Homo sapiens: one gene and its partners. The protein of the gene in region 4 purifies or fractionates together with the protein of the main gene of each other region. This does not show direct contact. Each region holds a gene or a part of one and is shown on either strand. Other genes may lie near its edges.

Evidence for each region.
Region 1: the proteins of LCP1 (region 4) and SPACA1 purify together in Homo sapiens (co-immunoprecipitation; one large-scale study listed by IntAct). This does not show direct contact.
Region 2: the proteins of LCP1 (region 4) and RASAL2 fractionate together in Homo sapiens (co-fractionation; one large-scale study listed by BioGRID). This does not show direct contact.
Region 3: the proteins of LCP1 (region 4) and RAD23B fractionate together in Homo sapiens (co-fractionation; one large-scale study listed by BioGRID). This does not show direct contact.

Annotation. Positions count from the first base shown.
Region 1 is NC_000006.12:88,045,106-88,051,776, forward strand, and holds the start of SPACA1 (sperm acrosome membrane-associated protein 1 precursor), read left to right. Parts: upstream 1-2,735; 5' UTR 2,736-2,800; coding exon 2,801-3,008; intron 3,009-6,671. UniProt on the Homo sapiens protein: Plays a role in acrosome formation and establishment of normal sperm morphology during spermatogenesis. Important for male fertility.
Region 2 is NC_000001.11:178,442,323-178,448,524, reverse strand, and holds part of RASAL2 (ras GTPase-activating protein nGAP), read right to left. Parts: intron 5,851-6,202; coding exon 5,296-5,850; intron 3,008-5,295; coding exon 2,863-3,007; intron 1-2,862. UniProt on the Homo sapiens protein: Inhibitory regulator of the Ras-cyclic AMP pathway.
Region 3 is NC_000009.12:107,319,625-107,325,826, forward strand, and holds part of RAD23B (UV excision repair protein RAD23 homolog B), read left to right. Parts: intron 1-2,358; coding exon 2,359-2,494; intron 2,495-4,265; coding exon 4,266-4,393; intron 4,394-5,209; coding exon 5,210-5,380; intron 5,381-6,202. UniProt on the Homo sapiens protein: Multiubiquitin chain receptor involved in modulation of proteasomal degradation. Binds to polyubiquitin chains.
Region 4 is NC_000013.11:46,153,031-46,159,232, reverse strand, and holds part of LCP1 (plastin-2), read left to right. Parts: intron 1-243; coding exon 244-407; intron 408-581; coding exon 582-711; intron 712-2,662; coding exon 2,663-2,795; intron 2,796-4,346; coding exon 4,347-4,428; intron 4,429-6,202.

The DNA of each region.
Region 1 (6,671 bases), on a different chromosome or scaffold from region 4:
ACAGTTTCTACCACAAAATTCCCACATTGTGTAGCAATACAGTTTTAAGTGATGGACACAGAATAAGGACACAACAGAGGTAAGGGTGTGAGACAAAAGAGCCAGGGGAGAAATCCTGCCTCTGGGATCTTGCTCCAAAAGAGAAACCTCTTCTCCCCTAAAGGTTAGAAATATCACCCAGAGAGAACCTTCTCTCTGGGGGATTACTATGGAGAAGGCTTTTTACCAAATCAAGCATATTAAAGCCAAAATCGATTTTATCTCACAGATAATGATTTTCACAAATATCACTGTAAAGTTTCTAATGTTATAGCAGTACTTAGAACATTGTATTAACTGAATGTGTGTGTGTGTGTGTGTATTTTTTCATGCTCGTGGCGTGTATCAGTGATTTTCATCTTCTTTTTTGGTATGTGGTCATCTCAAGCTGCCCAACGAATGTTTTCACTTGACTTCTGTTGATACCTCCAACTTAACCTTTAAACAAAATGTCTACTGACTTTCCTAATTCCCTTTATTTGCTCCCTCCCTCACTCCCTTATCCTGCTTAGGCAGCCAGTCATTCCATTTTGTTAATCCTTCCTTTGTTATTTCTCTCACATTCATTTCTCTTTTCATTTTTATGGTAATCCTTTATTTAGGCCTTGATTATCTTGTGCTTATATCACACATACACAAATTGGTCTTCCTTTTCAGAATACAAATTGGTCTTCAAGGGTAGGTAGTGCAGAGACTGGATAGAGGAATGATTTTCCCACATACCAAATGAGGCCAAGCAAGGTAAGGTCAGACCAAGATAGGTGAGCTATGTTTGGGCAGAGTGGGGCAGAGGAGTTTGGGCTCTAATCCCCACCTCTTGGAAATTGGAGATGGGGGTGGAGATGCTTAGTTCCAGGCAGGATGAGGTGGGTCAGAGGAGCATATCAGGGATCCAGGGTGGAATTCCTGCTCCTTAGTATCTGCAGGTTAGAGTAGGGTCAGTCCCTCTAGATTCTGTGCCCTGCCCTTCTGGCTAAACACTTATCTTTCATTTATTTGTGGCTAGAGAGAGTACTAGAGAGACAGTAAAAGTTTGTTGAGGACAGATATTATACTTTTTCTTATAACTTACATGCGTGACATGGTATTTTATAGGTGATTTATAATGCTGCTATTAGAGATATTAATAGTCTTTATTTCAGAGTTAAATCTTTCAGGTCCTCTTTGAGACCCATCTGGCTCCCTTTGGAGATGATTATTTGTTAGATTATTAATGTTTCCTTGAGTCAAATTACATATTTTAGAGTTTATGGGACTTCCTCTGCTAAAAAAGGATACTATCTTCAGGAAGCAATGGATCCTAAAATTGACTTTGAAACACTCAACAATTTGCCAGCAACAATACTATATATCATCTTTTTAAAGTTTGTGTTTGACGGCATAATTTTTGACTTATTTCTCTCAGGATTCAAAAAAGAAAAATTTTGACTCATTTAGCCATGAAACAAAGGCCTTTACTTCTCAAGATCAAATCTAAGTTTTCCATGTTAACGTCCCTCATAATCTTGTCAAGCGCTATATTTTAAGGTATTTTAATTGACATAAATGTTCCCGAGACTTCTCACCAATACCAATTTGAACTTTAACACTGAAGGTGTTTAGCAGTCCTTGTATTTTCAAAATTAGAAGCCTTTGCAGGAGAAAATATTCAAATACAAAATTTCAACTTCTGCTTCAAACAACCTATTTTGTTACAAATAAGTGTTTCTGAAGAACCTCTTAATACTTTTCTGTTACCCCCCTTATCTGTTAGTCTGCTGAGACTAGATATTCAAATATTCCAAAAGCCAGAGTGTATGCAAGTTCACTTTCATCTCACTTGTCATAGGAATTTAAACATTAAGCCTCAAAGTATGGCACCCTATATGTCTTTTCAAAAACAACAACAAACAACCACATTGTGACTACTAGATGAGGTAAAATTTGTAATAACAGAATCAAAAAAGTCAACCCTAACTTTTCAGCGCTTGAACTCCCAATCACCCCCACTAAAGGCTTCTTCGTTAACCTTGAATCATAAGAATCACTGATCATCGAGTAAGTAAGTGTTCGGGAGATATGACTGTGAGATCCAGCTTTGTAAATAATTTCTGGATTTTTGGGGCGAGTCATTTCATCTCTCTGATTCTTAATCTCTTCACTTAAAAATGAGGGACTTGGAGTATCAGATGATTTCTAAATTTCTTCTTACTCAAAGTCTATTATTCTGATCCCAAAGAAGAAATCGAATCCTTCTCAATACATCCCAAATTGGATATTCTGGATAAGAAATTTTGAAACCAAGTCACACGAAGAGTATGTGAGGGATAAGAAGTCTAGTTTGGGGAAGGGTAAACATTATGTACGAAAAAGAAATGTCTTAAAAGAAAGCAGGCAGGGTGAGCGAGGAGGCTGAAGAGTCGCTCCATAAACTGAGGCAGAAGGAGCAGCCGACAGCAACGCCTACCGCACCCGGAAGGCTCAAGGAGGCGCCCTGGGCAGGGAACTTCCGGTTGCGGGGAAGGGCGGCGTCCTCTCCTAGGGACTTGTCGCACGCGGCTTCTCGTCGCGTTCCGTCTTGCACGCCTCGCAGCCTAGCTCCGCGCGAGTTCCAGGCGCTCAGCACCGGAGCAGCGCCCCGGCAACCATTGAGGCGTCACGGTTCGTCACGGGATTCGGAGCCGGGCGGCTACGGGCGGGGTGTCGCAGCTCTCTTCGACGTACCTGTCCTCAGGAGCCGCGGCGGCGACTGCGCCTCGGACGGCCGTCGGGGCCGAGAACCATGAGCCCCAGGGGCACGGGCTGCTCCGCCGGGCTGCTGATGACTGTCGGCTGGCTGCTTCTGGCGGGCCTCCAGTCCGCGCGCGGGACCAACGTCACCGCTGCCGTCCAGGATGCCGGCCTGGCCCACGAAGGCGAGGGCGAGGAGGAGACCGAAAACAACGACAGCGAGACCGCGGAGAACTACGCTCCGCCTGAAACCGAGGATGGTGAGGGCGGGAGCTCCCTTGCGGGGCACGCGGAGGCCCCTGTTGACGGAGCAAAGGCCTGCTCTTTGCCTGAGAACCATAATTATGTGTGTTAACGTCAGGAGAGCTCTCTCTCATACTTCAGCCCCGAGTTTGTCCCTTTCTTGCATCCTGTGGCCTTGAAGAAGAATGTGCTCATTCTCCCAGGCCACAGCAAGATACACAGATAAGCACGTATATAGAAATTGCTATAGAAACACTTCTAAATATTGCTTTGGACAAGGAAAAAGATTTTTTTTCAGGGTGGGAGGTAGCCTTCCAACAAGAGGAATCATTTTGACTCCTCTTGCAGTCACTTTCCCTTCTCATAGTAGATTTTTTTTTTCAAGTTCCAAGTTGCTTGATTTCCACATTTGCACTTGGGGTTGCAATGGAATTCAGAATCCCCCTTTACGACGATACACCCAGATAGACCAGTATGCCGACAAAACTGCCCAGAAGCCCCATGGCAGCTTCCTGCAGCTCCTAGCCTTGAGCACCTCTGCATTGTGGTGTTTGATTGGTATGTGCGGCCTCGGACAAAGGAATGGAGCAGTAGAAAACACCTGTCAAGGGATCCAGCTAGTGGCTTTGTTAGATGCTACATATTAACCAAGGAACAATGAGCCCCCCGCTTGGTACATACATTTGCTTTTTTTTCTGCTGGCTCATTAAGCAATAAAACTTGACAGGCTGTTGTACATGTCATATTGATTAGTAACTCACATTCTAGCAGGTAGAAGGTCAGCAGCAGGTTTGCTGCCTTCTCAAGAAAGATTATTCCTTTCCCTTCTAAATGACCCAGCTGCAATTCTTTTAATATTGTTTGCATTCTCATATCTCTTCAGTCTATACATATCGAGTGACTGCTGTGTCTACCAGCCTTTCTTTCATTTCCTGATAGTGATCCTCAGCACCAACAGAAAGAAATGAACTGTCTGAGGTTAACAGTGGGATCGAGGTTTGCACGGCCTTGTAACATTATACTACAGAGAGCTTAAAAAGATCCTTGACTTCGGAAATGTGAAAAAGAAAGATGACTAGGAAAGAAGAGAACACGTCCTAAAGCATAGTAGCTATTGCTTCATTCTCTTCTTTAAAGTAATTGAATTAACAATTTTAGTATTAAACTGGCCAAGAAATACTTCTAGCTATAAAATGCTAAATATTATTTAGGCTAAACTCAGGCAATAAAGTTATAATGTCTTACCTTCAAATTAAAATGTAGGTTAGTTACTTATTCTCTGAGTCACAGTTTCCTCATCTACGGACTTCAAGGAATCCATGTACTTTGTGGGATTTTAATACATACTATTTCATGCATAAGTGCTTTTTCTTGGGGAGCGAGAGAATCCAAAACTTTAAACAATCTGAGGTGTTATAGGTCTGAAAATTTCCAGAACCATTATTGAAATTTGCACTGTCCCCTTAACCCTCAGTGGATCAGTAGAAACAGTTATCCCCATTTACTATCCAGTGGACCTTTAATTTTTTTTTAGTCATTTAAAAATAATTTACAAATAAGAATAAAGGGATAGTGAAAACAACTGTGTTAGAAATTTCAAGAAGAATTTAAACATGGAAAAATTCAAATTTTTATTCCATATATCCTAGTTTTGAAGGTGTATGTACTCTAACTGGGCAAAGTACTTTGAATGCAACTAAGTGCTCAACTGTTAAGCATGAACCTGGAATGCATTCATCATGTTAATACTGATTCCAGATTTTGAGTGCATCGTTAATAAATTCTAGCTTATCATTAATCTTGGTTCTTTTTGCACTTGTATTGTCAAAAAAACCAACACTTTTGAAAACTACAAAGGCATATATTTTGTTGAAGAGAAAGCCATCTTCTTTTCTTCATAATTGGAAAATATTTTCATCTTTAGATTTATAAACACCAATTAGAATGATTGGTCCAATGAATTTTACTCATTTCTACATAATCTTTTCTTTCAGTCACCTTTATATACATATCTTTCATCACAATATGTTCATTTACAAACCTTGGCAAATAAATGTTGGTGCATAAACGTTATAAAAAGGGAAAGAATACCGTCCTCATCCTTTTAGCGAAACAGTATGGCACAAGTTATTGTCACAGTATATTTCAGGATTAAATCTTTCCTGTTGTCAGGCTAACTACATGATAATACCATATATTCTTTTCATCCCCAGAAATATAATGTTTACTCATCAATTCTTAAGTTAGAGAAAATTCATCTAGTATATTCATCCAAGATAATCATCATCTCTCATTGAGATTTTGCTTATACAATCAATTTCATCATCATCATTAGCATCCAAAGTGCTGTTATCTGTCTCTTTTCATCTTCTGATTCGTTCAATAATTGTGAAATGTTTTTCTCTGTCAGTTTTCTTCTCTTTGCCATTATGGGCAAAAAATGAAAAATTGTGAAATCTCAACTGTGTTCAATAAAAGCCAAAAATAGACTACAAGGAGGATACCTCTAGACTTCTTTTGTATCTTCTTGAAAGATGATGCAATATCTTGGGCAAAGCAATATGAAAACATGGGATGTTGTAAAATAGCTTGTGTTAGTGTAATTCTTTCACCATTACATTATTTTTCTAGGCAATTCCAATCATTCTTTCATTTTTAAATTTTAGTCATTTAAAAATGTAGTTGAAAATAATGAGCAATACCATCATTATGGATGATGAAATATCACAATGTTTCAAGATAAAGAAAAATCATTAAGATATTAGATTTATGGCCAGGGGCGGTGGCTCACGCCTGTAATCCCAGTGCTTCGGAAGGCCGAGGTGGGCAGATCACAAGGTGGAGATCGAGAGCATCCTGGCTAACACGGTGAAACCCCATCTCTACTAAAAATACAAAAAATTAGCCGGGCGTGGTTGCGTGTGCCTGTAGTTCCAGCTACTCAGGAGGCTGAGGCAGGAGAATGGCGTGAACCCAGGAGGTGGAGCTTGCAGTGAGCCGAGATTACGCCACTGCACTCCAGCCTGGGCAACAGAGCGAGACTCTGTCTTAAAAAAAAAAAAAGATAATAGATTTATATCCTTATACTTTTGTTATACCTTGTATACCATGTAATATACCTTTTAAATATATCTTTTATACAAGTATACCCTTAGATTTATAAAAAGGGGCCAATAGACCTACATAGTAATTGCAAAATAGAAAGTTGTAGTCTATACAATGGGTTTTATCCTATACAAATATAACTATATGTTATTTTTGTCTTGGAATACTTCTAAGGAAGAACAGAAGTCATAAAATATCAGCCTTTCAAATCAACTGTCAGAAACTGAAAAACTCAAATTGCACTCTGATGATATATACCAAAAGTTACCATGTGCTGTCCTGAACTGAAGAGAACATTTCAGGATCTGGCCACAACTAAAAGAGCAAGATCATTTTCCTTATCACTGTGGATGCCAGGCTTTTGTTAGTGTAGTCTAAGACCCAGTAGATTTTTAGGGAAGCCTCTGCACATCTTTGATTCCTATTGAATTCACTATTGAACTCTCCATTCGTTTTTAACTGTCCTATCAAATTAAGACCACCCATAAAATAGTTTTGGACAGTTGGCTTTTTAGCTGTATGTGAAGGACTTTTTATTCCTACAAGGTTTCATTTTGTTAGATTTGCCCATTATT
Region 2 (6,202 bases), on a different chromosome or scaffold from region 4:
GTCTATATGATTAGAGAAAAAAATATGAAGATAAGCAGGAAGACAAAAAATCTGCTTCAGAGCAGAAACTAATTGTAGTAGCTACTATAATGTGTCTGCTTCATGTAAACACAGTGATCCTGTTTCTTGAATGGCGACTCACTCTATTCCTTACAGCCTGCCTCCTTTCCTCCTGAAACCAGTGTGAGCCATCACTAGTGATATTTAAGGTGCCAAATGCAATATCCATTCTTTTTCTTTACCTTCCATAATTTCTGACTCTACTGATGCTCTCTTCTCTATTGGTATCTAGGACTCAGTATTTTCCTGGTTTTCTTTCTTTTTTGGATGCTCTCTCTTTCTCTGATCACTTCTCTGATTCCTCTTCTTCATTCTATACCATAAACCCAGGTGCACTCTAAGATCTATCCTTGGCCCTGTTCTCTTCCTGCTCTGGTAATCTTACAGCTTCATTTAACCTCTCCACAAGCATAAATTAGTCTCAAATTTCCAACAGCCAGCTAGACAGGTATCTTAGATTGCCTATCTAAAACCCCTGAGATTTCCTACTAGAACTTCAAATTGAATATATATGTAATTTCCACTGTTTCACACCTACTACTTCTGTGGTTTCTATTCCTGTTAAGAATCTCATCATCCCCCTAGTCACTCACAACACCCCACAATTCTCTGTAATATTCGTTCCCTCCTTGCTTCCCACAAACTGAAAAATTTGCCAAGTTCTATCAGTTCAACCTTAATATTTCTCATATCCGTCTTCCTCTCTATTCTTACTTGCATGATTACAGTCATTCAGAGTCTCATTCTTTCTTATTACAATGGCTTTTTTTTTTTTTTTTTTTTTTTTTTTTAAGAGAAGGAGTTTTGCTCTTGTCTCCCAGGCTGGAGTGCAATGGTATAATCTTGGCTTACCGCAACTTCCACCTCTCTGGTTCAAGCAATTCTCCTGCCTCAGCCTCCTTAGCTGGGATTACAGGTGCCCGCCACCATGCCTGGCTAATTTTTGTATTTTTAGTAGAGATGGGGTTTCAGCATGTTGGCCAGGCTGGTCTCGAACTCCTGACCTTGGGTGGTGGGCCTGCCTCGGCCTCCTAAAGTGTTGGGATTACAAGTGTGAGCCACCGCGCCCAGCCTACAATGGCTTCTTAATTGATTGGCTTTCAGTAGGCTTTCTTCACCTTTATTTATTTATTTATTTTTTTTAAGACAAGGTCTTTCTCTGTCACCCAGGCTGGAGTGCAGTGATGTGACCATAGCTCACTGCTGCCTCGAACTCCTGGGCTCAAGCAGTTCTCTTACCTTGGCCTCCTGAGTAGCTGGAACTATAGATGTGAGCCACCATGCCTGGATACAACTCGTCTTAATCAGTCTGCTAAGTTAATTCCACTGAAAACACCTGCTCAAAACTTTCAGTGGCTCTCCAGTTATTACTGTAAACTTTAAATCTTCACCCAGGCATTTGAGGTTTTCACAAATTAGTTCTAATTATTGTTTAATCTTTTTGTTGTTGTTGTTCACATGTTTCTTTCATGTCTTTTTCCAGCTAAATAGTTTTATTCCACACATTCCTGGTTCTGTCCCACCTCTATGTCTTTTTGTTTATGGGTCCTTTCCCCCATGCTACTTCTTATCTTATCTGCTCTTGCTCAATGTCTGTTTTTAACCTTTCTATTCATCAAACTACATACAAAACATAAATGTATTTCACACAGAAAGTTTGACAATTCTATCAGCTGGATTCAATTTTTTTAAAATTATTTGAAAGAACACAGAATGTCTCTTTTTGGTATAGAGATATCCCTAATGTTATATCCTTACATTGCAAACTTCTCGAGGGTAAAAATCTCTCCAATCATTCAACATGTTTTTACTTTCTATTCTTGATAGTCACACGTGGCTGTTGAGCATTAGAAATGGCTTGTGCAAATTAAAATGTGTGATACATGTGAAATACACACTGATTTTCAAAAAGAATAAAAAAGTAAAACACCTAATTAATAACTTTTATTCTTCTAAACCATTAAATAGTATTTGGATATACTGGGTCAAATGAAATATGTTATCAATTTCACCTGTTTCTCTTCATCCTTTTTAATACTGTGACTACTAGAAAATTTACAATTACTCAAAAAATAAAAATAAATAAAAGTATTCACACATGGGTCATATTTCTATCGGACAGTGCTGCTCAACAGTGTGTGCAGGTAGTGGGGATATGGAGGTAAAACAAAGGGCTATTTCCTTCAAGGAACTCACATCTGCTCTATCATGATGTATATTAAAGTGACCAGCACAGTACCTTACTCTAGCGGTTAATGCCTCAATTTCATGACCAAATCTGGAACTGCAAGTGCGTAGCCTAGTCAGCAAGAACTACTGATTGGACAAAAATTAGTTATGTTAAAAATTCTAGAGAAAGGCAGAAATTTGTGGGGGAGTTGTGGGAAGTGGCAAGAGTTTCTTCACTTTTGATTAGAGTTTTGCATGCATGATAACAAATGTCAGGGTAACACTCTCAAGACTAGGTAATAATATCATCATATAAACACCCAAAACTTTGGGCAAAACAGACCACCTCAGATCTATCAGTGGACACTGCTGATATTACTGTGCATCCTGGAATCATGAAGCTGGGGACCTGGGGTAGCAGTGTATGCTGACAAGGTTTCTGTTTCTACATTTATTATTATTTCTCTACTGGTGAGTACTGCAGACTTCTTACAGCCATGATTCAAACCTTAACACCTGAGTCAGCTAGAACTAAATAACATGCAGAATTTGAGCTCAATTCGTCTCATGGGGGTGAAATAGCTTAAAACTGAAAAGTAAATAAAAGAAAATAGATGTTTTTCTCTTTCATACCCAGTGCGTCATGAAGATACTGTTGTCCCACCAACTTGAGGTATTCCTCAATGGATTTGGTGGCAATAGTGTTCTCTCTGAAGATCAAGACATCATGCTCTCCACAACGATCCACCTCAGACATCACCAAGTCAGTCAGAAAATCCTGGTAGAATAATGTTCAATCAGGCAGAAAGCAACTGAATAAATAATACACATTAGAAGAGACTTTTGAAATATCAGACATCCTGGAAATGCTGCTTTAAAACTAAAGCTATCAGATTCATCTGAAAGGAAAAAAAGCAATCAGGATAAAATGTTAGGTGTTCCTACCCCTACATTTAAAATTCCCTCAAAGATTTTCCATTGCACTTTTGATAAAGGCCATAATTCTGAATGCAGTCTACAAGTCCCTATATTTTCTGGTTTCTGTCTACCTTTCAAGCCTTGTACCTTTTCTTTTTAGGTCCTTTAATACACCAAGCCCTTTCTAACACACACAATGTTCTCTATTCACCACAAAGCCTTTTTTTTTTTTTTTCCAAATACTGTTCTCAGTTCTGCTCTGCTCCCACCCTTGCTTCCACTCCCACTGTCAGGTAGCTCATTCCTGGGATCCTTTGGATTTTAGTTCACACATCATTTCCTCAGTGAAGGTGTCCCTGACCAACATTGCCCCTGAACTCCATTAGTCAGCTCCCCTTGCTCCATTTCATAGTATCATCTCTCTTTTTATCCTCTGTAGTTCTCACTGTAATCATATTTATTTCTGTAATTACTTGATTAATATTTATTTTCCCCAGAAAACCAGTTTCTGTTTTTGTTTACCACCATATCTCCAGCACCTAACAGTTTCTGGCATATATTAGGTGTTCAATATATAATACTTACAAATCGGTCCACAGTGTCAATGTAGAATCTACTGAACTCATCACTTGAAGTCATTGTCTAGGCTATCTTTCTGTCTGCCCGCCCACCCATCCATCCGTCCATCCATCCATCAATCCAGAAGGATAGCATAAGGGGAAATAAAGGTGCAAAGAAACAGCTGCTTCATTCCTCAACAGTCTTAAAGAACTTCTAGTAAAGCTCAATGTTGGTTGTTCAGTTTGAATGTGATAACATCATATATTTTGAATGCTATATAATTATTGGATATTTCAAGGGCTGCAAATGCCAAAATAGGAGGAATATGCTGATTTACTTTTACTTTAAAATTAAGCATTTTAAACATCAATGGGACTTACTCTGGGGCAGCTTAACAGTATAACAGAGTTGTAGACTTAGGAATCACTATTAAACTTAATGCTAAGAGACAGGAGGAAACTCTTGGGGGTAACGGTAACATTCTGTATCTTGATCATAGTGGTGGTTTCGATGGGTGCAAAATCGGTCAAAGCTTACTGAACTTTTCCACTTTAAATGGGTGTTTATTCTACCTAAAATGTACGTAAATCAGTATTAAGTCATTTAAAAAAGTCTTAATGTATATTCTGAACCTTGAGCAACTGAAAAGTAGAAATATATCCATACAATTCAAAATTTCAGTGACACCTCGCTCCAAACTCATAAGCTTTTTAATGACAGAATGCCCAAGATTATCATAAGTAAATTTAAACACAAAAGTTATAATCCATAGAAGCCAGATAAGAGACTAAATATTGAATATATTGATATATTCCGACATATCAAGAAATAGTAATAGTACTTTGTTTGGTTCTAAATACATTATTCTAGCTGTGAGTTTCTTTGGATCTGAGATGTAATTTTATCATGACCAGTTTGCATACAGTATAACGGTAACTCTTCCTAGTTAATATCCTTCATAGGTCAAAGACTCTCTCAACTAGTTTTTGTTCTTCCCACAACCAGCATATTTCTCCTTTAAATAAAAAATATTCCTGAGTTTTTACTTCTATCCAAGGTGAAATAAGTGTATCATGAAACAGCTACCAATTGTATCATATCCCTTGGATTTTTATTCTAAATATAGATTTTAATCCCACAAAGACTCTTGCTAATACTCAATATGCTTCTGGAATACTTCCTTCTGTGCCTAGAGGATACAGTCATCAGTTAAACTTAAATAAAATACAGTGAGGAAGAAAACCACCATACAACACTCTAGAACTAAATTAAAGATAAGGAACCTTGAACATGCTGTAGGGTTATCGTGCCAATCCTACCATTTATTTTGTCAGACAAGAAAGAGCTGGCTGTGTTATCTATGTTTCATGCAAATTGGCTTTAAATATTTGCTGGTCTCTCCATTTTACTTGTTTAGTTTTATAATCTTCATCTTTTCTGGATCTAATAGGTTTTCTTCTTAATTCTTCTTGTTTTGACCAATAGTAAAGCACATTTCTCTAATTTGGATTTCTACAATATCCATATCTTGGTTTATGAAAGGTAGGGAAGAGACTTCAGGTACTGCAATCCCCCTTTTCCACTTACCTTGGCTCTGCCAGTACTTTGAAGAATGTGCACTAAGGCACAAGCCAACTCCTCTTTATTTCTCACACTAATTACTGGCTCAAGGACAGAACACAGCATGGTGTAGTTGCTGGTGACAAATTCTGCAAATTCTTTGTATTGCTCCATAGGCAGAATGGTGATAGTTTGGAAACGTGATTTAATCCGAATAGAAGGTCCTCCTGTCTTTCCTTTGTTGGGTGTAGGTGTACTCACTGGATACCACTTTTCTACAAATTGGCGACCAGTCACACTGGCAGTGGGGATGTTGACTAGCCCTACATAATTATTCTTGTCCTTTTTTTTCTTTTTTTCCACATCCTTGTAAATGTGAACTGTGATACTATGAAGAGGTGGAAGGCTGAAGAATTCAAAATGTTCGCCCCAGAAAATATTGTCTGCTTTGGTCTTGCTGGTTGTACGAGCAAAGAGGGTATCATCAAGGCACAGTTCGCAGAAATATTTCTTTTTAGGGGCAAGGTCCTTGGCTTCAATGATCCATAAACGAAGAACATTTTCAGCTCGCCTGCAATTGTCCTATAAAGAGGCAACAAAGCTGAATTTCAGAGCTGACATTGCAGAAAAAAAAACATTTTTTTCTTAAGTTGGCAATGTTCATTAGGTACTCTATTAAGGGGAGTCAACAAATAATGAAAGGGATTGCTATCTCATTGCTTAGGTTAACAGCAAGCTCTAAACAAGCATGCATTAGAATCTTGAAGAATTATATATAGTTCATTATATATATTATATATAGTTCATTCTATTTTATTTACTTGGGTTAAGAAAATATCATTTTGTAACGGTAAGTTTTCATATAACCAGTCTAATATCTGCAAATAAAAGAGATAAGCTGTTAAGAAGCTCGTATTCTAGTCCCTCTTCTATC
Region 3 (6,202 bases), on a different chromosome or scaffold from region 4:
ATCCTCTGATTCACTCTGTTACCAACGTAACATCATGCATTTAATGAATGATGTTACTACCTGGTTCCGTTGGCATTTGAATTTGTTTTTATAGTCAGTAGGAGTTGAGGGACTTTTTGAATAAAGTATTCTTTTTTTTACTGGTAATGGGAGTTTTTGAGAAATAGGTTGTTGTGGACATCAACTGAAACCCTTGGTATTAAGATGAAAGTCTGCTAGTTTTACAGATGTGACACAGGCTAAAGTAATTGAATTAAGTTTTTTAAAATCTCAGACTTCTATAATTGTCTGGTGTTTTGGAGTATTATCAAAGTCTGAATTGCCCTAAATATCATCTTAAAGTTGCCTGATTCTAACCCTTTTGGGAATTACATCCACAGTTTAACCCATTCCTTTGTGTCTAGGTTGTACTTCTGTTAAAAACTCCTTTCAGGTAGCTAGCTAGTTTCAGAAGAGTCAGTTATAAGCCTCATAACTGTACTCTGCCTCCACCATTTATTTGCCTATGCCTTTGCATGTGAAGTTCACAAAACCTTTTTCTTAGCATATTATTTTATCTTTTTAAATTCACTTTTTCATTATCTTCTTGAGTAGTGTCTTTAAATGCTGGCAGTTTATCCAGTTTGTTTGGAATTGTGGAATTAATAATTGTTGTGAATTTGTTTGGTGAGGAGTGTGTACCCTAAACAGATTGTATAAAAGTATTAGCTTTTATGGAGTGGCTTTCATTTACACCTGATTTAGAATTCTGTATAAGTTCAACAGTATCAGTTATTTTGATCTAATAGATGTGGAGTTTTGAGGTATAAAAATACAGAATCATTGTTACCAAATGCTAAAACTGCTGTAGAGCATCAAATGCAAATAAATAGATGATACATGAGTTCATCAAAAACAATTTATAACTAAAATGTTTTTTATATATTTGCTCTTTGTTTCATAGACTGAAGGGGAAAAGTTGCTTTTAACTGTTACTAGTTAAGAGATAGGTTAAGGTGAACGGATGGAAAGAAGAAATGTTGAGCATTTATATAAGAGGCTATGTAATGTGTGAGAATAGAGGTCGATCTATAGCAATAAAGATGAACTTTTTAGTTTAATAAAAGAGAATTTGATGGACGCCCTGGATCCTAAATTTGTATGTAGTTTGTTAGCACTTAAATAACTGCCCATCTGAGTTAAGGGTTTGCGTTGGTTAACTCATTCAAAAACATTGGTTTTAATGCCTGGAGTGACATCTAATCCATGCAGCCATTTTCCTGCTGTGTTACTCTTCATCCTTTATATGTTGTTGCTTTTGGCTTCTGGTTTATTAGGGAATGGAAGCATTTATCATCTTATTCAATTGTAATACTTGGTTCTTTATTCTCTTCAAAATCTATAAGAACTTGATAAAGACTTTTTAAAAATTTTAAATGACAAGTCTATCAATCATGTGCATCAAAATAGGTGTCCCAAAAGAGTTTAGTGCATGCAGTTTTAAGCTCTTAATAACTTTAAAAGATAAGTACTATAAACTTACAAAAGGCATCACCTAAAAACTAAATGGTTTCAATTTCTTTTATATCGATTTTATGAATTTTGAAAAATTAAATTTTTTGAGATACTTTATCTCATTTTTTGAGATACTTTAAGTATCTCATTTATGAGATACTTTAAGTATCTCATTTATGAGATACTTTGACACTTTAAGAAACACTTCACTGAAAAGTACCTCAAATTTATGAGATACTTTCTGAGTGACACTTTCTCAGTACCATGGATCAGTAGGGGAGATCCTCCTGCCTGGCCACTGTGTACCTGGTCTGTATCCATTAGATATTTTTTCCCCCAGGAGTCATTTCAGAACTGTCAAGTGTGCATCAAAACCTCTTTTTGGATTATCTTAAGCTAGAGTTGCAAACTCAATCCTTTTTATCACTGAGTAACAGCTGATAAAGATTTCTAAGAAGTTAAAAAGTCAACTGAACTAATAGGTAGCACAAAAACCTTTGGTTGTGTTCAGTTTTAAGAAGGTACATGTATCAATATTTTTCAAATTTGATGCTAATTACGTGTGCCTGGTAGGTGTCTTATTGAACAACACAGAGAATATTTCCATCATCATGGTAAGTTCTGTTGGACAGTGCTGCTTTGCATTATTATAGCAATGTGGGTTTTTCTATAATGCACCCAGGTCATTTCTAATCTAATTTGAATCCATGCAGCTTAATAATCCTTTACTTTTAATTGAAGCAGACATCTGTTTGATGCTTTTGAAAATCAAACAAGATGTTAAATAGACTATAAATCTTTTACTCTGTATAATATTTAATTTTGCATGATGGGATATCTTAAAGCTTGGAAATTCTATTACAGGGAATCCCTGGAGATAGAGAAAGTCAGGCTGTGGTTGACCCCCCTCAAGCAGCTAGTACTGGGGCTCCTCAGTCTTCAGCAGTGGCTGCAGCTGCAGCAACTACGACAGCAACAACTACAACAACAAGTTCTGGAGGTAAAGCGGAATCTTCTGGATGGGGAGGGAATGGCCCTGAATTTTTAGTGTAAAATAATTTAACCTGAAATACTTCAGAAATGACGTTCATTCCCAGAGCAGTCGAATAATTCGTTAAGTTCTCTCTTCACTAATGTTTGAGAAAGGCCCAAAAGAAACTTTCCCAAGTGGATGTAAAAGGTATCCTTGCTGATATTAAACATCAGTGTTGCAGTTTTGCCGAAGGGCATATTCTGTTTTATTTGTTTTAAGGAAAAGATGCTTTCCAGTTTGTATTTAGTGTTACTTTCTGATGCCATTCAGAATGGTTTGCTCACTTTGTCTCTTACTCTCTCCATAAATGTTACAAAGTGTATGTAATTTCAAAGCCAGCAGGATTTTAGTAATTATACAGCCAAGGAAATGAAACCGTGAGAGGTTTAAAACCTTGTATCTAGAGGAGAAAGCAAAGCTTGAATTGAAGTCTCTTTACTGGGGTGCTGACCATACCCCACACATTGCTATAGGTCTGACTACAGAGCAAAGCCTGGAACCTGCGGTCAGCTTAGGAATTACGCAGTGTTCTCCTTCGTTCGTTCTTCTGTATATTAATAAAGTAATTTAAACTGTTGATCTTGAAAAGGCCATTCTTCCATGCATTTCCTAGCTCTGATAATGATAGTCACCTCTGGTTGACAAAGGTCACTCAGTGCTTTGTGTACAGTCTCCCAAGGACAGGCCCTTTGTTTGTTGTGATTCAGCATATGGGAGTGGAAAGAGATGACCACAGCTCTGCTTTGGATTTGGGGTCCTGTTCCTTTCAGCACTTATTAGGTGACATAGTCTCTAAGTCTCGTTGCCTTCACCTGTAAAGCTGGTATTATATATGGAAGAACAAAAAACCCATGTGCTGTGGTCATTTCAATTGGAATGATTGTCTTCCTGAATAGGAAATTACAACATACATCTAAAAATTCTCTTTTATTCATTAGTAACCTCAAAAACAATTCCTGTATGTACGATTTTTGGTTTCCTATAGCATAACCAGACAAGTACCAGCACCCTGAAAAAGCCAGAAGTTCTGTATTTTATATTTTATTTGGCATTATTAACATTTATTATTGTGAATGGATTTTAGACTGAAGAGTTTAGATATATTAGTACTAGATTGCCATACAGCTTATTTATCCGAGTTTTTGTAGTTCACAAATGTTTGAAAATTAATGGTAATAACCGGAAGTCTTCCTTAATGTAAGTTTGGATTAAAGTTTCTCCTGATTTGCAAAACCTGACCTCAGACTTTAAATATCTTTTTCTTCTTTGGTTTCTTGAATTCCTAGGAATTCAAGCTCAGATTGTGTTCTTTTAGGGGTTTTCATTGTTTATAAAGTAAGTGAGTTTTTGTTTTTGTTGTGGTGTATATTTTTCTTAGGAACTTTTAAGCAACAGGAACAACTTTTAGTACTTTTTATTTTGATAGAACACACACAGGAGACAAGTTTCTAGTATTATTTTATAACGTTGAGTGCCAAGGGCAATTATAGGAAAGTTTGGTTCATATTACAGTCAGCGTTCTGCACTCCCTGCCTTTGCTAATAGGAGTAATTTTTGCCGTATAAAACTTGCAAGTTGGTACAGTTGGAAGATTTCATCATTATTTACTTCATTTTATTACATCTGAGAACTCAAATCATTTTTTCTTTGATAGTGTTTGCTGTCTAAATGTATTATTTAACCACTGTTTGTGTATGTATTTACTGCTTTTGTTTAGAAATGTTTATGTGTATTTTAGGACATCCCCTTGAATTTTTACGGAATCAGCCTCAGTTTCAACAGATGAGACAAATTATTCAGCAGAATCCTTCCTTGCTTCCAGCGTTACTACAGCAGATAGGTCGAGAGAATCCTCAATTACTTCAGGTGACTAATCAGTGTCAGTTTCACAAGTGATTTAGAGTGTGTCACAATTTGAAAAAGTCCATGAACGGTCCTTCCCCTCCTCAAATACAACTCTGTATTTGAGAATGTGAATGTTTTCTTCCAAGCTACACTTAGATATTGTAATCTAGATAGGTGTACTAAAAAAACAGTTGGGATATGGAGGTTGGGTTAAATTAAGTTGACCAAATAGTAGTAAGTTTGGGAAACATTTTATATTTCCTTTTTGGAGATTCCCACTACACATTAATATGTTAAAGAATTTGGGAAGCTGTTTAACAGAGAAACTGCCTAACTTTAAATCACTTTTCACAAGCTTATTACTCAGTTCCTTTTTCTTAGGAACTTTTAAGCAACAGGAACAACTTACTCTTAGAAAAAATAGCTGTGGGGCTTCTTTAGTGATCAGATCACCAAGTATTTGAATTTTATACAGCATTTTAATGCCCACTAGTGTGGAAGGTAAAAAATACATGCAAGTATTAAGAATAAGTTCTATTCTTATAGTCCCACAGTAGTTTTTTTTGTTTGTTTTTTGTTTGTTTTGTTTTTTTAAGCACAGGAGGCTCAGAGCACTTAAGAATTTGAATTTCTTCACTGTTTACTTTGCCCAAAAGTACTGAATTTCTTTACTATTGTATAAGAAATCACATCCTTCCAAAGACTGAATAATCCAGAATCACTAAATTACGTTTGCAAAAGTGTAGCCTTTTCTCTTAGTAATATTTAGAATTTCTCTGTTCCTGCAGATACTTAATATCAGTGTATTATTTTTCTCTGTCCTTCATATCACCACAGCAAATTAGCCAACACCAGGAGCATTTTATTCAGATGTTAAATGAACCAGTTCAAGAAGCTGGTGGTCAAGGAGGAGGAGGTGGAGGTGGCAGTGGAGGAATTGCAGAAGCTGGAAGTGGTCATATGAACTACATTCAAGTAACACCTCAGGAAAAAGAAGCTATAGAAAGGGTGAGTTTAAGTAAAACTTTAAAAAAATTAGTTCTTGGCTGGGCTCATGCCTGTAATTCCAGCACTTTGGGAGGCCAAGGCAGGTGGATCACCTGAGGTCAGGAGTTCAAGACCAGCCTGGCCAACGTGGTGAAACCCCATCTCTACTAAAAATACAAAAATTAGCTGGCGTGGTGGCACATACCTGTAATCTCAGCTACTTGGGAGGCTGAGGCAGGAGAATTGCTTGGACCTGGGAGGTGGAGGTTGCTGTGAGCCGAGATTGTGCCACTGCACTCCAGCCTGGGCAACAGAGTGAGACTCTGTCTCAAAAAAAAAAAAAAAAAAAAAAAAAAAATTCCTTAGTCACACTAGCCCCATTTCAAATGCTCAGAAGTCACATATTAATAATAAGGTTTTTCTATAATTTCTTTCAATAGTGTCCTGTAGTTTTCAGTGTAGAAGTTGTGTAATACTTTTGTTAAAATTATTTCGAAGTATTTTTATTCTTTTTGATGCTGTTATAAATGGATTTTTCTCTTAATTTCATTTTCAGACTGTTCATTGCTAACTATATAAAAATACAATTTAATTGTGTATATTGATCTTTTATCATAAAACCTTCTTGAACTGTTATTTATTCATTAAGTAGTTTGTGCATGTGTTCATTAGGATTTTCCATATACAAGGTCATGTCATCTGCACATGGAGACAGTTTTACTTCTTTTCCAATATGGATACCTTTTATTTCTTTGTCTTATTTAACTGCCCTATCTGGAGCCTCCAGTATATTATTAGACTAGCAAGAACCAACAACATCCTTGTCTGGTTCTTGATCTTAAG
Region 4 (6,202 bases):
GTGGAAACAGAGGTACCTTATAGAAATTATGACTCTTTTACTGTGGATGTTGAAAGTAATGCTGGTGCCCCTATTCAGTAGCAACAGTCATCTTGTGAGATTCTGACTCTTCCCTGGGATCATGCCTTAATGTCTGAATGATAGCCTCTCTCGTCCCTTCACCTTCCATCTAGTCTTCCCTCACCTCTCTAAAAGCTGTTGCCTGAATCGTCCTGAAGCTTCAGTATATTGTGTACATTACAGATACTGATGGCAATGGATACATCAGCTTCAATGAGTTGAATGACTTGTTCAAGGCTGCTTGCTTGCCTTTGCCTGGGTATAGAGTACGAGAAATTACAGAAAACCTGATGGCTACAGGTGATCTGGACCAAGATGGAAGGATCAGCTTTGATGAGTTTATCAAGGTGAGTACCATGCAGAATACAAGGAGACACATTTGAAACTTGGAACTTGAATTCTGTTTTAAAAAATATCCAGAAAGACATTCCTTACCTCCTTGCTTCGACATTACATATTCTTTCCTTTGTGATTTTCTTGATCACTGCTTGAGTTTCTAAAGATACATTATATTTTTGCAGATTTTCCATGGCCTAAAAAGCACAGATGTTGCCAAGACCTTTAGAAAAGCAATCAATAAGAAGGAAGGGATTTGTGCAATCGGTGGTACTTCAGAGCAGTCTAGCGTTGGCACCCAACACTCCTATTCAGGTAGGCTCAACTCCTGGGTTGGAGCAGGATTTCAGGATTACAGATTCTAAACTTGGTATTCAAACCTAAGGGATGTAAACAAAGACAGAAGCAAACACAGCTTTATGGATGACTCCCAATTTTCCTGTGACTAAGTGGGTCAGTTCTGGGTACATAATATAGGAGCAGTCCTAGCTCTGGGTAGGGTCCAATACAAAATGATTTGATCAGCATTTAAACAATCATTAAAGGCTGCCCAGATTCCTTTCTAAATCTTATGGACAAAATTAGCTACTCAAGCTTCTATCTTTAAACTTCATGATAATTTTTAACACCTGCTAAGTGATCAAAAAATTATGTTTTCATTGATTTGGAATAAATTTGTAAATTTATTCCGAAGGCTGCCATCCAACAGCCATAATGGAAACTTCCAACAGGCCAAACAGTATAGTTGTTGCAACATTTCCAAAACTGAATTATTCAAAACGTTAGTTGATCTTAAAGATAAACTCATGAGGCCGGGCACAGTGGCTCACGCGTGTAATCCCAGCACTTTGGGAGGCCAAGGCGGGTGGATCACCTGAGGTCAGGAGTTAAAGACTAGCCTGGGCAACATGGTGAAACCCCGTTCTACTGGGTGCAGTGGCGCATGCCTGTAATCTCATCGACTCGGGAAGCTGAGACAGGAGAATCGCTTGAGCCCAGGAGGCAGAGGTTGCAGTGAGCCGAGATTGCACCATTGCACTCCAGCCTGGCGACAGAACAAGACTCTGTCTCAAAAAAAAAAAAAAAAAAAAAAAAGATAAGTCATGATTAAATACCATCTATAGTTGCTAAGACAACGTTTGGCCTTTTGTTTTTAAATACAGGAATTTTCAGAACCTTTGCTGGGTCAAATGTGCAATGTGAATCTTTAAGGCGGAGATACATTCACTACACAGTATTTCCCAAACTTTTATGACTCAGGATTTCTCTGAGGGACACTACTGTTTTCAAAAACTGTCAGTTTGGGAAACATAGTGCTAGGCTGTGAAGACATAACTTGAGTTTTTATTAAAACATCTAAAAATCACCTTCTGGCAGCTTTACTGTTAGGAAAAAAAGATTATATCCAAATGATTTTATTTTATAGCAATTTAATTATAATTGTATCAAGAAACTCAGAGGTACAATAAGGATTGTCCACAGTGATCCAACATTTAAACCAGCAGAGCTAAAAGCGGAATCCTGAGTTTTGTCCTGTAAGCATTATACCACATTTGTATTTATATGTGTATATATATATGTATACATGCACATATAAATAAAATATTTTTATTATTTATGTATTTATATATAGAAAATAAACATATGTATATATTTGCTTCTAAATGTAAATATATATCTGGATTATGCGTATATATAGGAACAGAGAGATAGTTTTGGCCGGGCGCGGTGGCTCACACCTGCAATCCCAGCACTTTGGGAGGCTGAGGTGGGCAGATCACGAGGTCAGGAAATCGAGACCATCCTGGCTAACACGATGAAACCCCGTCTCTACTAAAAATACAAAAAATTAGCTGGGTGTTGTGGCGGGCGCCTGTAGTCCCAGCTACGGGGGAGGCTGAGGCAGGAGAATGGCGTGAACCAGGAGGCAGAGCTTGCAGTGAGCCGAGATCGCGCCACTGCACTCCAGCCTGGGTGACACTGTGAGACTCCATCTCAAAAAAAAAAAAAAGAAAAGAAAAGAAACAGAGAGATAGTTTTTAAATCTGTTTGCTCTATGTTTTATGACTTGGAGTACACAGACTCAATGCCTATTTCCCAAGTGATCTGAGATTTTTAAATCTTAATAAATATGAGATGATAAGATAATGGACTGAATAAACTCACATCTCTCTGCTGGGAATGAGAATTTAAGATCCACATGCATAATTTTGTTTATAATAGAGTTTCACTTTGCAAATGAGTCACTTTAATCATTTACTTGCAGAGGAAGAAAAGTATGCCTTTGTCAACTGGATAAACAAAGCCCTGGAAAATGATCCTGATTGTCGGCATGTCATCCCAATGAACCCAAACACGAATGATCTCTTTAATGCTGTTGGAGATGGCATTGTCCTTTGGTAAATAATACTTCTTTCTTGGTTTCCAAAGAATTGCCCATTTTCTAGACCATCAACAATTAATCGTTATTTATCGTAGGCCAACTTTGTTTGGTGCTCAGCTGCACCTAGAAGGCTTTTCTGGACTTTCACTTGGCCAGGTCCAGGACAGCAAACTAAATTCAAAAACAATTTATAATGAGAAATGTAAAATTGCTATTGCTTGAGTGGAGAGGAGGGATAAACATTATAGAGATAAACATGGAAGATATAGTTATACCAAGTCAAAAGCATTAGATGTCTAATCAATGTATTAGATAATTAAGTGGGGGAAACTTATAAAATACTGATTAAATAATGACTATAGAAGGACATTAAAAAGTTTATCTGATGACAAGTTTAAAGTATAAAGTTGGATCAGGCATCAAGCGGAAATGTAGACATTATGTAAGCTCAGAAGTACATAGATAGTCTCTTCTATAATGAGGACAATTTTCCTGGTTATATATTTTTGGAATATATGCTGCTTGGCTTCATCTGAGCGTGGCTCACCATGAAAGCAGATAGAATTGATAATAGCAGCAGGATGATGGAAGAAGTCCTTAAACTGTAGTCCTTAAGCAAAGAAACCTTTGAGTGATGCACAGAAATCCACAACTCAAACATTGAGGACACCTGGAAAAGGGGGACTGCATCCTACCCACGGGAGGCCTCTAAATATGGTGCTGCTCAATGCAACGTGGTGTCTTTGAAAATACCTCTGTAGCTCTTGCTTCAGCAGGTTCTCTGTCATCACAGGCCAAGTTGTAAGTGAAGTGACTTGAGGTGCTCAATATGTGAGGGACTCAGGACTTAAAGGATAACAATGGGTGGGAAAGACATTGAGCTTTCTCCTCTGCTCTGACCAGAGCAATTCTACTTTTGATATTTTATTTATTAGTTTGTCCTGAGAATTCATTTTTAAAAGGTTCAATTGCTATAAAAAAATCAAAATTCTAGCTTTTAGGTTGCCACCCAAGGCACCCCATGGTCTTCCCCCAATCTGCTAGTTTTACCTTCTAAGACCCCTGTGACTCATTGGTACTCAGCCTAGGGCACTGAGAAGGATATAAAAATGTTATCATATGATTAGCTGAAGATACAAAGTTTGGTCCTGTGTCAAATAGAAATGTAGACAATAATAAGCTCAGAATTTTGTAGACAGTCTTTTATATAATGGGGACAATTTTCATGGCTAAGAAAATAAAGTACTTATGGTAGAATTACTTTGGTTATCCACCCAGAATTTCCTAATGTGCTAAGAAAATCAGGATAATTTTGCAGCTGTTTAGGTGGGAGAATGAAGTGGGGTCCTCATTTCCAACCTCAATATATGAATGTGGCTTCAGTAGTATTCACCTTTCCCGCAGATAGTTTGAGTCTAGTCAAACGGCATAACTGATTTTATATCTAAACATCACAGATTCTGTTGCTATCTTCTTTGATTATGGTATTGCTAGAATTTAAATTCAACGTTACTGGGCTCTGTTATTCAGAAGACTGCTTTCTTTAATTTAATTGTTTCTCTTTCAGTAAAATGATCAACCTGTCAGTGCCAGACACAATTGATGAAAGAACAATCAACAAAAAGAAGCTAACCCCTTTCACCATTCAGGTATGTCTTCCCACCGTTACCATAATACAGGATTTGTTTGGCATCAATGAGCATCATAACTGCTGAGTCCGCCTTTTTCAGGGGCTCAGACATCATTCGCAAAACCCAGGCTTTGGGCTGGTGACTTGTCATACTTCAGGGATAAAGGGATACATTTCTGAGCAGCAAAGAAGGGAGACTGGTGGAGTGGTAGCAGCTGGGGCTTTGTATGTTTGTTTTGGCCACTTAGGAATAAAATTCACTTTGGCTAAAGTTTTAACTCAAGCTTTCCTTAGCAATTTATCTTTGATTTGATGCCAAATAAACAGCATTTTAGATGAAAACATAAGCCTTTCTAAGAAGCGAGGGGGTGAAAAACGGGAAGTACTCTGGCAGCCTTCATAGTAATTTTGGCCACAGCCACGAGTATAATAAATATAACTTGCTTTTATTCCATCAATTTGTTGATTAACTGGAATAGTAACCAGCAGTAAGTGTATTTCTGTGTTGTGTTCCAATATTTTAACATTATCATAATTCTTTTGCTAAGAAACCATATCTAACTTCTTAAATCATGAACGATACATTATCTCCTGTGTGGATTTAAGCAACCTTGTGTACTTTAAAAATGGAAATGGTAACCAAATTGAGAACAATGATTAAACACATATGAATGCACTTAATGTTAAATTTACTCATAATCTTGACCATATATAGAAACAGTATTTTTCACTCATCATTTAAGCACTAGAACAAGGACCCACTTTTCTTCTGATAGTTCTTTTCCTAATTCACTGGCGGCCTTTGCTTTGTTTTTAATTTGCCAATTAAAACAATTTCTATACATCTCTGACATTGATATCTCTTCCTTTTTAAACTCAAGAATAGTACATACAGAGTCTGGACTGAAAACTCCCTTGACTCTATCTCGACTATATGTGAGTTACATTACCTGCATTGTTGTTACTCATAAGAACATAGAATCTATGAGTATGTGTGTGTATACTCAGGTTCCCTAGTTATTACAGATACTCAACAAATCAACCTAGCAAAAACCATTCCATCTTTTCCAGGAATTTTAATCGTATCTATTTTTCATTTTCGTTTTCTTTTTTTTTTTTTTTGAGATGGAGTTTCACTCTTGTCGCCCAGGCTGGAGTGTGATGGCATGATCTCAGCTCACCGCAACCTCTGCCTCCTGGGTTCAAGAGATTCTCCTGCCTCAGCCTCCCGAGTGGCTGGGATTACAGGCACCTGCCACCATGCCCAGCTAATTTTTGTATTTTTAGTAGAGATGGGGTTTCACCATGTTGGTCAGGCTGGTCTCAAACTCCTGACCTTAGGTGATCCACCCGCCTTGACCTCTCAAAGTGCCGGGATTATGGGCATGAGCCACCGTGCCAGCCTTTTCATTTTCTTAACACCCAATCTTCAAGTCAAAAAGCTCTTCTGCTACTCTCTTTTATGATCTTGATTTACATCAACAATTGTCTTATTCATGATGGCCAGTGACAGGACAATGACTTTCTCAAAGGTGTCCCTTTATTTTTGGCCAATAGAGATGTTTTGTGTGTCAGCTTCATCACAGAGCAAGATGGAAAAATATAGGCCTCATCAGTCTCATGCCAACCAGAATGGGCCTTCAACTTATGGTGCTGGTTTGATTGAATGGACCACTGCATGAGTGGTCGGTGTCTGGGTTACTGGATTTTCTCTTCTGGTTATGAGTCACTGTTTTTTTCTCAATGTTAAAATGAGTGAAGACCATGACTCTAAACCTGTGACCTTCGCAGAA